Linked DNA regions of Homo sapiens. The protein of the gene in region 3 interacts with the protein of the main gene of each other region in a pairwise test. Each region holds a gene or a part of one and is shown on either strand. Other genes may lie near its edges.

Region 1 (3,612 bases), on a different chromosome or scaffold from region 3:
GAAAATATTGTACTGGAAAGAAATGCACCAAAACAATCATATCTTTAGTAATAGAGAAGTACAAACCCAAGACTCTTTTCTTTTTTCTATTCTGTTAATTCTCTGTGATATGGCCATTTTTTTTATAATGAAAGTAATTTTAATATTGGTGATGCAATAGAGGAGAGGATCCCCTCCCCATAACCAAGGCGGGAAAGGGACTAACTAACCAGGAAGATTGAAGTTGGAGCCTCAGCCCTGCAGGCCACCACACAGGCCCCTCCTGTTGATCTGATTAGTCTGTACCTGCATCCACCCCCTTTTAATTTGAATGGCCCAGGAGCACTGCTAGAAAGAAAACATCTCAGAACAGTTTCAGGCATTAGCAAACAGCTCTGCAACCTCCCACTTGGCGGGCTGTACTGGTAACAACCATGGGGAGACCAGTCATGAAGCAGCTAATTTGGTTCACTGCTGTTTAATTGACCAGTGGAATTTTTTTTTTTTTTTTTTTTTGAGATGGAGTCTCGCTCTGTCACCCAGGCTGGAGTGCAGTGGCACAATCTCGGCTCACTGCAAGCCCCGCCTCCCGGGTTTATGCCGTTCTCCTTCCTCAGCCTCCCAAGTAGCTGGGACTACAGACACCCGCTGCCATACCCGGCTAATTTTTTTTTTTTTTTTTTTTTTTTGTATTTTTAGTAGAGACAGGGTTTCACTGTGGACCAGTGGATTTTACAGCCTCCCATCCTTTCATCCTCATGATACCACTGGAAGACGTTCATTGACTCCATCTTACAGACAAGACAGCTGAGGCTTAGTGATGCTAAGTGACATCACCCATGTGTAGGCAGCTAGGAAGGTGCTTCATGCATAGCAGGGCTCGAGAGAGCTTAGGTAAGCGATGTGAGGAACCTCTGCCTGTTCACCATCCAATCCACAGGTGCTCAGTAAATTGCTGTAGGATGCATACGACCGTCCAACACCCTTCAGATCATAAAACAATAGAATTTGAGAGCTGCGACTATAGCACTGCCACTAAGTCACTGTTGGCTTTAAGCAAGTCGCTCACCTTGAGGGGGTTGAACGAGCGTGTTGTGTTGGTCAGCGGTGCCTAGGAACAGCAGCAGCTTGGGCTCAACAGGGAGCTTGTTAGAAATACAGAGCCTTAGGCCCCACTCCAGACTTGGGGAGTCGGAATCCCTGGGGCGATGATATGGTCTGGATCTGTGTCCCCTCTAAACCTCATGGTGAAACATAATCTCCAATATTGGAGGTGGGGCCGGGTGGGAGGTGATCGGATCACAGAGGCAGATCCCTCGTGGCTTAGTGCTGTCCTCACAATAGTGGGAGAGTTCTCATAAGATCTGGTTGTTGTAAAGTGTGGCACTCCACCCCCTGCCCAGCTCTCTCTCTTGCTCCCACTCTCACCAGGGGAGACGCCTGCTCTCCCTTCTCTAGCCATGGTTGAAAGCTCCCTGCGGCCTCACCTGAAGCCAAGCAGATGCCAGCACCATGATTCCTGCACAGATCACAGACCCATGGGCCAATTAAACCTCCTTTCTTTATCAATTACCCAGCCTCAGGTATGTCTTTAAAGCAATGCAAGAATAGCCTAATACAGGTAGGGTCCAGCCACCAAGGTTAACCTGACCTCTAGGGGATTCTGACACATGCACGCACACACCCAAAAGCTTGAGAAGCGGGTGGCTTCTGTGAGTTGAGGCTTCCCCTTGCCACCCCTGCAGGTGGATTTTGAAGACGTGATCGCAGAGCCTGTGGGCACCTACAGCTTTGACGGCGTGTGGAAGGTGAGCTACACCACCTTCACTGTCTCCAAGTACTGGTGCTACCGTCTGTTGTCCACGCTGCTGGGCGTCCCACTGGCCCTGCTCTGGGGCTTCCTGTTCGCCTGCATCTCCTTCTGCCACATCTGGGCGGTGGTGCCATGCATTAAGAGCTACCTGATCGAGATCCAGTGCATCAGCCACATCTACTCACTCTGCATCCGCACCTTCTGCAACCCACTCTTCGCGGCCCTGGGCCAGGTCTGCAGCAGCATCAAGGTGGTGCTGCGGAAGGAGGTCTAAAGCCAGGTGGGGCAACAGCGGTGGCAGGGCAGGGGGTGGTGGGCCAGACTGGTCCCCGGGGGACTTCTTCACAGGGGCTGCTGGCGAGCTCTTTCTCTTTAGGGACTGCTCCATACCCCATGATGGAGCACACGGTGTAGGGAAGCCAGAAAGAAAAGACGGCCCAGCCACAGAAGCACAATGGCCCTTCGCTCTCCCCCAGCCCCACCATGATGCCCCCATGCCTGGGCGTGGGGGAAGATCATTTGCCAAGAGGCAGCTACTGCAAGTCTTTGCGTTCACTTGTACTGTAACAACATAAACCAGCACGCGGTTCCCACCCGGGGCCAACCTCTCCACGCGCACTCAGGAAAGTGACCAGTGACCACTGGCGTTAGGAAGGTGGCTCCAGTAAAGGGTTTTGGCTGCATTTGGGGAATGCTGCATTTTGTTCGTGCCTGTAAGATTGGTTTGTGTCCTGACCAGCTCCAAAAATATACTTCACTGCCCTGAAAAACAGACACAGGGAGAGTTGGTTGTCTCTTCACTTGGCCAAATGTAAGTGAAGAACAGAGTCTTTTTCTTCTTCGGATTCTATTGTTTGCTGGAACCGTACACGTTCCTTGGAAGATCATGTTTAAGTGACTCCTGTTGCCTGAGCACAAAAATGGGCACCAATGGAGGAAAATGACCCTTGGGCTGGCAGGGGCAGTGACCCTTCCAGGGTACCACTGAGGGAAGGGCCTGGGTTCAAGCCTCCCGGAACCTCCCCTTTGGCTAACCGAGCCCCTGAAATGCCCAGTACTGCCATTTGACATGAGGGTACCTTCGCCCTCAGGAGATGTGACGAAGGAACAAGGTCTAATTTGTGCGTGTGTGGACTCACTATGGAAATAAAATGCAGTAGAAAGAGCATGTATCACTTCCTCCCTCCTCACACTCTCTCTCTCTCTCACACACACACACACACACAGTGCCCTTATCTTCTTTAGGGCTGTCTTTTCCGAGTGTGCTATCCAGAACTTAGCCATTAAAAAAGAAAGGATGGGGATGGGTGTTAGCATCTGTGGTCCGGTTCTTTCAGAAATGCTGTATATTTCTCTCAGAGATTTTCAATAGACTTTGGCACATTAAAGGCTCTGACATGTCCTGCAGTAGATAAACCTGTTTAAACCAGTATCCCCCCAATCCTATCTGACCTTTTTTTTTTCTTTTTTTCTTTTCATGCAACGCCCATTTAAGTCTCATATAATTAAAGTTCCACAGCACTTGTCAGGTTTTCGGAGACATTATTCATGCCTGGCCACGAGCCCAGTGGTCTTGGGAGGCAGTGTGGTGAAGTGGACCACACACAGCTTGGGAACTAGGACGCAGGCAGCCTTGGTTCTAGTCCTGCTTCCGCTCCTAGTTGCCTTTTCTGCCTCAATTTTATCACCCACAAATTGATCTCTAATGTGCATTTTGGCTCCAAAATTTTACCCAATTTTGGTTTTCTCCTAACATTGTATGTAAATTTCAAACACAGAAAAGTTGAACAGCTACATACCCATCTTGGCTCTATCATTAA
Region 2 (3,655 bases), on a different chromosome or scaffold from region 3:
CATGTATTTTTTAGATGGTGCCATTTACTGCTTAGCAGAGATTTCTACTCTGATTACAGAAACATGAATTACTTGTTGCATTTGTCCAGTATTGGGTAGAGAAATGTTTGTGTCTATTCTCAAATTAAAATTTTTCCTCAAATAGGTTAATAGAGGGTGGTATTTAGGAGATGTTGAAAGGCTGTGTGTTGTGTTGTTATGCAGTTTAACTTGGAAATGGTTGATTATATACCGTAAAAAATGTGTTGTATTTTCAGTCATCTAATTTAGGAATATTTTCTGTTCAGGAACAGAATAACTTGTCTTAATCTATGTTATCTATGCATTATCCAGCTGGACAAAAATTACCTGTGCAACAAAACTGTTATGAAATACTGCATTTTATGTGATGATCCAACTAGATATTTATCCTATAGAAACCTGGTAGCACCAGGCAGCATCTACAATCTAGTTCTGTACTCTGTAATAGAGAGAAAATATGTTAGACATTTTATTACGAACAAAGTAATGTGCTATATATATAGCACAAAAATACACAGTATAACTTATTAAAAGTCCATTTAAAAGGAAAATAGTGTAAGATTTTTGAAAAGCATTACTGTTAAATCATACTTGTAGTGTGATAGGACTACAGTTAAAATATTCCTACAGGTCGTATATATGCCATGCTTTACATAATGGTTGTGTTCATTGTTTCAGATGTAAGAAAAACAATAGATGACTTAAAAAAAGTGATGAAAAATTTTGAATCCAGAGTTGAATTCACAGAAGATTTGCAGAAAATGAGCGATGTGAGTATTTGTTTTTAGTCTTCTATATTTTTAGAAAATATTTTCAAAGAAATATGAAGCTATCTTACAGCCAAGGAACAAATTAATTGAAGTTTAAAATGCTTTCAGACATCTTAGGTTGAATAGTTGCTCTTTGGATAATTTTAGTATGCTGGAGATTTGTGTTGTTAATACGCTTTTTTTTTGTTTAAAAACCAGGCTGCAGGTGATATTGTTGACATACGAGAAGAAATTAAATGTGACTTCGAATTTAAAGGTAAGCAGTAAGATTGTTTTATGTGTAGCTGTTTAGATATTTTGATTTTTGTTGATTTTCAGTGGGCTTTCTGTGAGATATTTGGGATTTAGAATACACTTTTAAATTCATAGGATGCCAACATTTTTCTACTCATTGATTTTTTTTTATGTGAAACATTAATGGATAAATAACTTTTGGTTAAAAATGTGATTCCTGACTGGTCTGTTTTAGTGGTGGGATTACATGGCTTTTTTCTCCCAAAGTTCTCCAGTGCTCCAAACCTCTAAAACTCAGAAGATGTATATTCTAGACATGGATCTGCTCCTAATTTGTTCTCTGACCATGGTGAAGTCCTAAGATATCTTTTGCTAGTTTTTCTTCTTTTAAAACTGCAGCTTTGTAAGCTGTTTTTGGAAGAATGAATGAATGTGGGTGTATTTCAGCCATTCCTCTTATGGTGCCTGCAGTGGCTTTCCCTGCGCAGGTTGTTCCCATCTCCACCCAGTAGATTTCTTTTGCCAAGGCTGGCTTATGTGTTTGGGTTTACTTCTGTAAAGCCAATGGTTCCTTCGTCAGTTGTAAAGTGTTAACGGTAGTGAAATTGTAAAAAGTATTACAGATGGCTTATTATTTGCTACTGTAGAAGACTGTACAGTGTCTTAAACAAATGTACTGAGCATTCGTTTTGACTTTCAGCACTCATATTTTGGTGATGAACTCTTAAGATAACTTACTGGTTGAAAGAAGCCACATCACAAGTAACAGGAAGTGGCTTTAGAAGGTGAAATAAAGGATATGTATATTAAAGTTGAACAGAAAGACAAGATTTTTGTTTGTGGTGACCAGTGACAAATTATGAGCGCTACAGGTCTGAAATAAAAATTGTTAACTACTGTCTTATCAATAATAGTTACAGAGAATAAGGCTGTGAAACATAATTTGATATTTTCAGATGTATGCAACAATGCAGCAAATTTGAATATATGATGGACTCGAGGTCATCTGGTAGTGCCATATCTCATAACAGGACGCATCTTAGACTTCTTCCCATTACTTTCCCATTACTTTGCTTTAATAAAGCAAATAAAGCCTTAATTTGCTTTATTAAAAAATAATCTATTTTTTAAAATGAAAAGCAGATACCTCTGAGTTCAGATTTGACCCATCTTTTTTCCTCACATGAAGATTACAAATGAAGCAGTTTAAAAAGTAGAGATGTTCATATGTAAAATGATAATAGAACTTTACAGAGATGAGCCGCCGTTGTTTCCTTGTAGGGTACTCATTCCTTGGCAGTGCCCTGGAGTTTAAAGTATCCTGTCACAAGGCTTTTGCACGTTACTGTAGTAACTAGATTTCCTTGAGTAAGGATGGTAAATGGAAATTTATCATTTATGTGTTGCATTTCGCCTTATAACCAGGGTGCATTGTGGCCATTTCTTATGCATTTTTGAAGCTCTTCTCACAACCTTGAATGTGTATGCAGGTTCTCTGGGGCTCTTGTTGAAATACAGATTCTGATTCAGTGGGTCTAGGGTGTCCTTAGAGCTTACACTTCTGAAGTGTTCCCCAAGGACGCCAGTGCTGTTGATCCATGGACCACACTTTGAGTAGCAAGGCTGTAAGAGACATTCATCCTTGGAGTTCTGTTTGGCTTAAAAATTGTGACCCCTCTGTTTCAATATTTCCCTTGCCCCAAAAGAAAGTCTCATTAAGTCTGGGTTTGTGCCTTTTTTATGTTGGCTATTAACAGCCACGTCTTTTCCTTTTTCTAAATAGCAAAACACCGAATTGCTCATAAACCGCATTCCAAACCAAAAACTTCAGATATTTTTGAAGCAGATATTGCAAATGATGTGAAATCCAAGGATTTGCTAGCTGATAAAGAACTGTGGGCTCGACTTGAAGAACTAGAGAGACAGGAAGAATTGCTGGGTGAACTTGATAGGTACTTGATGACAAATTATCTTTCCAAGATAATTTGTTTCTATACACATTTCCTCATTAATCTTTTTCTTCATTAATAAAATAATATGTGTTCATTGAAGAAAATGCAGGGAAGCATAATATATTATCAATAATCCTTTCACCTCAAGATGAACATTAATTCTCTGGAATATTTTCTTATAGGATTGTGTGTTTGTGCATATTCCCATGCATGTACATGTACTTAAATACTTAAGATCAACATCTTCATTTTTTATTATGGCCTATTTTATATAATTAATTATACCAGATAGTTGACTTTTAATAATCATGGATTTAATATATATAATGTTAAATTTTAAATGAAGTATTTTTATGCCACACCCAGGATAGTGCTCTATCTTTGAATGTGTTGTGAAAAACAAAAATACACTTTGAATTTAAATTTGATACAGTAAAATGTTTATTCTTGCTTTCCTTTTATAAACTTTGGAGCAGGTAATTTGTAATCTGGTCAGATAGCTATATGTATGAGAAACTTTACGAAATTGCTGTTTGAAATACACATTAGCACACACTTAGAATTGTTAAAATGCTAAATGAAATCTGCTACTCGAGAAGTTCTATATTATTTTGCTTAAATGATGTACCATATGCAATAATTAGTTTCTGTGAAAAATAGGGCAGGAAGCATAAAAGT
Region 3 (3,655 bases):
CCCGCCTTGGCCTCCCAAAGTTCTGGGATTACAGGCATGAGTCACCAGACCTGGCCACGCCCAGCTATCTTTTAAGTGCATGATACAGTATTGTTAACTATAGGCATAATGCTGTACAGTAGTAGGTCTCTGGAACTATGCATTTTGTGTAATTGGAATTTGATACCTATTTAACAGTAGCAACTCTGCATTTTCCTTCCCCCCAGCTCCTGGCATCTACCATTCTACTCTCTATTTTTGTGTGTCTGACTATCTTAGGTATCTTACATAATCTTAGGTATCTCATATAAGTGGAATCATGCAGTATTTGTCCTGTGACTGGCTTATTTCACATAGCATGACGTGCTTCAGATTCTTCATTGTGTTTTGTCACATAAGGCAGATTTTTTTCTTTAAGGCTGAATGATACTTTTAGGCTGAACACATTCCATTGTATGTTTGACTATCTTTTTAAGGTCCTTTCCCATTCTAAAATCTGGGTAATCATGTATTTTTGAAGTTTGATTTTTTTTCCATGCATATGTGATTTTATTTTTCTAAAATTTAAACATTACAAAAATGGTTTAAACTTGAGAAAATAAGTTTCTCATCATCTGATAATAGTTTAAGTTTAAATCATTTCTTGGTTCTTCACAATATCTAAAACCATGATGAGAATACCAGGCCTGGCACAGTGGCTTGCTCCTGTAATCCCAGCACTTTGGGAGGCCGAGGCAAGGGGATCACTTGAGGCCAGGAGTTCAAGACCAGCCTGGCCAATATGGTAAAACCCTGTCTCTACCAAAGATACAAAAACTAACTGGGCGTGGTGGCATCTGCCTGTAATCCCAGCTACTCAGGAAGCTGAGGCAGGAGACTCCCTTGAACCCGGGAAGCGGAAGTTGCAGTGAGCCGAGATTGTGCTGCTGCACTCCAACCTGGGCAACAGAGCAAGACTCCATCTCAAAATAAAAAAGGCTTGGCATGGTGGTTCACGCCTGTAATCCCAGCACTTTGGGAGGCCAAGGTGGGTGGATCACTACAGCCCAGGAATTCGAGACCAGCCTGGGCAACATGGTGAAACCCCGTGTGTACCAAAATACAAAAAATTAGTTGGGTGTGGTGGTACGCGCCTGTAATCCCAGCTACCCTGGAGGCCGAGGCATGAGAATTGCGTGAACCCAGAGGCGGAGGTTGCAGTGAGCTGAGATCACGCCACCATACTCCAGCTTGGACGACAAAGCTAGACTCTGTCTCAAAAAAAAAAGAATACCTTAATACATGTTCCACCTAACTTAAGATAGATAGCTGTGCAACTACAAATGAATCCCATTCTTTTCCTTAACCACCAGAGGTAACCACTACTCAAGTAGAATTTTTAATGTTTGTCAAACCTGTTGCATGAATAGCTTTGCTTTTCTTTAGGGAAAATTTAGTTTTAATTTCCATATGGGTTTTTAGGATTTTGTATAATTACCTATAATCTTCCTTTTCCAGAAGGGAAAGATGCTTATATTTGCATTTTGCATTTTTTGATATCTGTGGCAGACTTAAGGTTTATTCTGAAGCATACAGCATTAATAATTAGGGCCTAACTTAACATCATTTTTAAAACTAATTTTTACACTTCAAATAGATGATGAACAACATGGGTGGTGATGAGGATGTAGATTTACCAGAAGTAGATGGAGCAGATGATGTAAGTCTAAAAATTCTTTTTTCTGTTTACTTTCATACTATTAAATAGTAAGAAACAACATATTTACAAATGGTTTTATATAGATTCACAATTACTTCTTATTTTCTAAAAAAAAAGAAAAGGGAAAAGCAATTTTTAAAATGTGCCCATTTTTGACGAATGGGGGTATCTATTAGGGAACTGGTTGTACCGTAGACCATTCCTAAATGGATTAGATTTCCAAAGAATCATTGTATAGAGACATTATATATTAATACCGTACTCAATTATAACAGTCAGTTTAGGCCGGGCGAGGTGGCTCATGTCTGTTATCCCAGCAGGCCAGGTGGGCAGAGTACGTGAGGTCAGGAGTTCGAGACCAGCCTGGCCAACATGGTGAAACCCTGTCTTAAAAACTTAGCCAGACATGATGGCAGGTGCCTGTAATCCCAGCTACTGGTGAGCTGAGGTGGGAGAATCGCTTGAACCTGGGAGGCGGAGGTTGCAGTGAGCCAAGATCACACCATTGCACTCCAGTGTGGGCAGCAGAGCGAGGCTCCATCTCAAAAAGAAAGAAGAGAGTCAGTTTATAGGTATGATTTTGACTAAGAAAGTAAGTTAAATAGGTTTTATGTCAGGATTGGTCAGAGACCGATAAAACAGATGGACATTGGGAGGCGGAGATGGGTGGATCATGCGGTCAAGAGTTTCAGGCCAGCCTGGCCAAGATGGCGAAACCCCATCTCTACTAAAAATACAAAAATTAGCCGGGCATGGTGGCGGGTGCCTGTAATCCCAGCTACTTGGGAGGCTGAGGCAGGAGAATCGCTTGAACCCGGGAGGCAGAGGTTGCAGTGAGCCGGATCTCGCCACTGCACTGTAGCCTGGGTGACAGAGCAAGACTCCATCTCCCCCCACCCAAAAAAAAAAAAAAAAAAAAGATGGACATTGGAAATCTGTAAGAGGAAGATACACTAAACTACTTTTCTCAACATCTTTCCAACCCCAGCATCCTGTTAACATCTCCCAGAAAGTTATTTAATGCTATTTAGAAAAACACTTAATATTCACTCAACAGCTAGGATTAGAGTTCACTGTCTTCTATCAGTCCATTTTTCTTCATATTGATCCATGTTTTCTCTTTGAATGCCGAGATAGGTTAATTTAGGAATGGATTCAACGGGTGGGCTAAATTGTCACCAAAAGGCACACATCATTTTTTATAGGTAGATAAATCCTCTGCTGTACATCCATTCACCTTAGGTAAACCTAGTCAAGTCCAATGACTAAATTTCTAGGCTTGATATGACTACCTACCTGTGCTACTTTAGTCAAAAATATAGCACTTGAACTTTTTTAGGTAAACTGTTCAGTTAGCAAACGAATATTTGATCAGCTCGGTAACTTTATTTTCCCTCTTTCAGGATTCACAAGACAGTGATGATGAAAGTAAGTGTATATAAAAAGTATGTTTATACAGTGATACTTTGCATCAAAAAACAAACTCAAAATAGAGATGTTAACTTCTTTGGAAGTAAAGTAATTTTTTCTTTATGACCTTGAATAAATAACCAAAGCAGAAATGTGAATAACTTGATAGCAAGACAACCTATTAATTCATTGGGCAACTATGTATTTCGATTTTTGGTTGCTTTTCCTTTAAGACAGTAAAATTGGTAGATTATTCACTTGTACTATATACTAATATTTTTAAAAATTCTTTCAGAAATGCCAGATCTGGAGTAAGGAATATTGTCATCACCTGGATTTTGAGAAAGAAAAATAACTTCTCTGCAAGATTTCATAATTGAGAGAATTCCTGAGTTGATAGCTCTAAAGGCAGATATGCTGTATTTGCCTACTTTAACCCATTTTTCAACCTGTTTGTTTTTTAAAAGGCTTCACTAAGGGTTGATATGTACCATTGTATGGGGCAATTTTAAGTCAGCTAAGGCAATAACCTTATGCATGAACATTTCCCAGACTTTCATGAAGCTG

Evidence for each region.
Region 1: the proteins of PTGES3 (region 3) and CAV3 interact in a two-hybrid assay, tested with the Homo sapiens proteins (one large-scale study listed by BioGRID and IntAct).
Region 2: the proteins of PTGES3 (region 3) and URI1 interact in binary tests that used the Homo sapiens proteins (3 or more experiments, as listed by UniProt).

What each region holds. Positions count from the first base shown.
Region 1 is NC_000003.12:8,743,802-8,747,413, forward strand, and holds the end of CAV3 (caveolin-3), read left to right. Parts: intron 1-1,724; coding exon 1,725-2,066; 3' UTR 2,067-2,957; downstream 2,958-3,612. UniProt on the Homo sapiens protein: May act as a scaffolding protein within caveolar membranes. Interacts directly with G-protein alpha subunits and can functionally regulate their activity. May also regulate voltage-gated potassium channels.
Region 2 is NC_000019.10:30,004,662-30,008,316, forward strand, and holds part of URI1 (unconventional prefoldin RPB5 interactor 1), read left to right. Parts: intron 1-699; coding exon 700-791; intron 792-989; coding exon 990-1,047; intron 1,048-2,808; coding exon 2,809-2,977; intron 2,978-3,655. UniProt on the Homo sapiens protein: Involved in gene transcription regulation. Acts as a transcriptional repressor in concert with the corepressor UXT to regulate androgen receptor (AR) transcription.
Region 3 is NC_000012.12:56,664,227-56,667,881, reverse strand, and holds part of PTGES3 (prostaglandin E synthase 3), read left to right. Parts: intron 1-1,615; coding exon 1,616-1,678; coding exon of another isoform or gene 1,679-1,726; exon of another isoform or gene 1,727-3,075; intron 3,076-3,081; coding exon 3,082-3,106; intron 3,107-3,383; coding exon 3,384-3,403; 3' UTR 3,404-3,655. UniProt on the Homo sapiens protein: Cytosolic prostaglandin synthase that catalyzes the oxidoreduction of prostaglandin endoperoxide H2 (PGH2) to prostaglandin E2 (PGE2).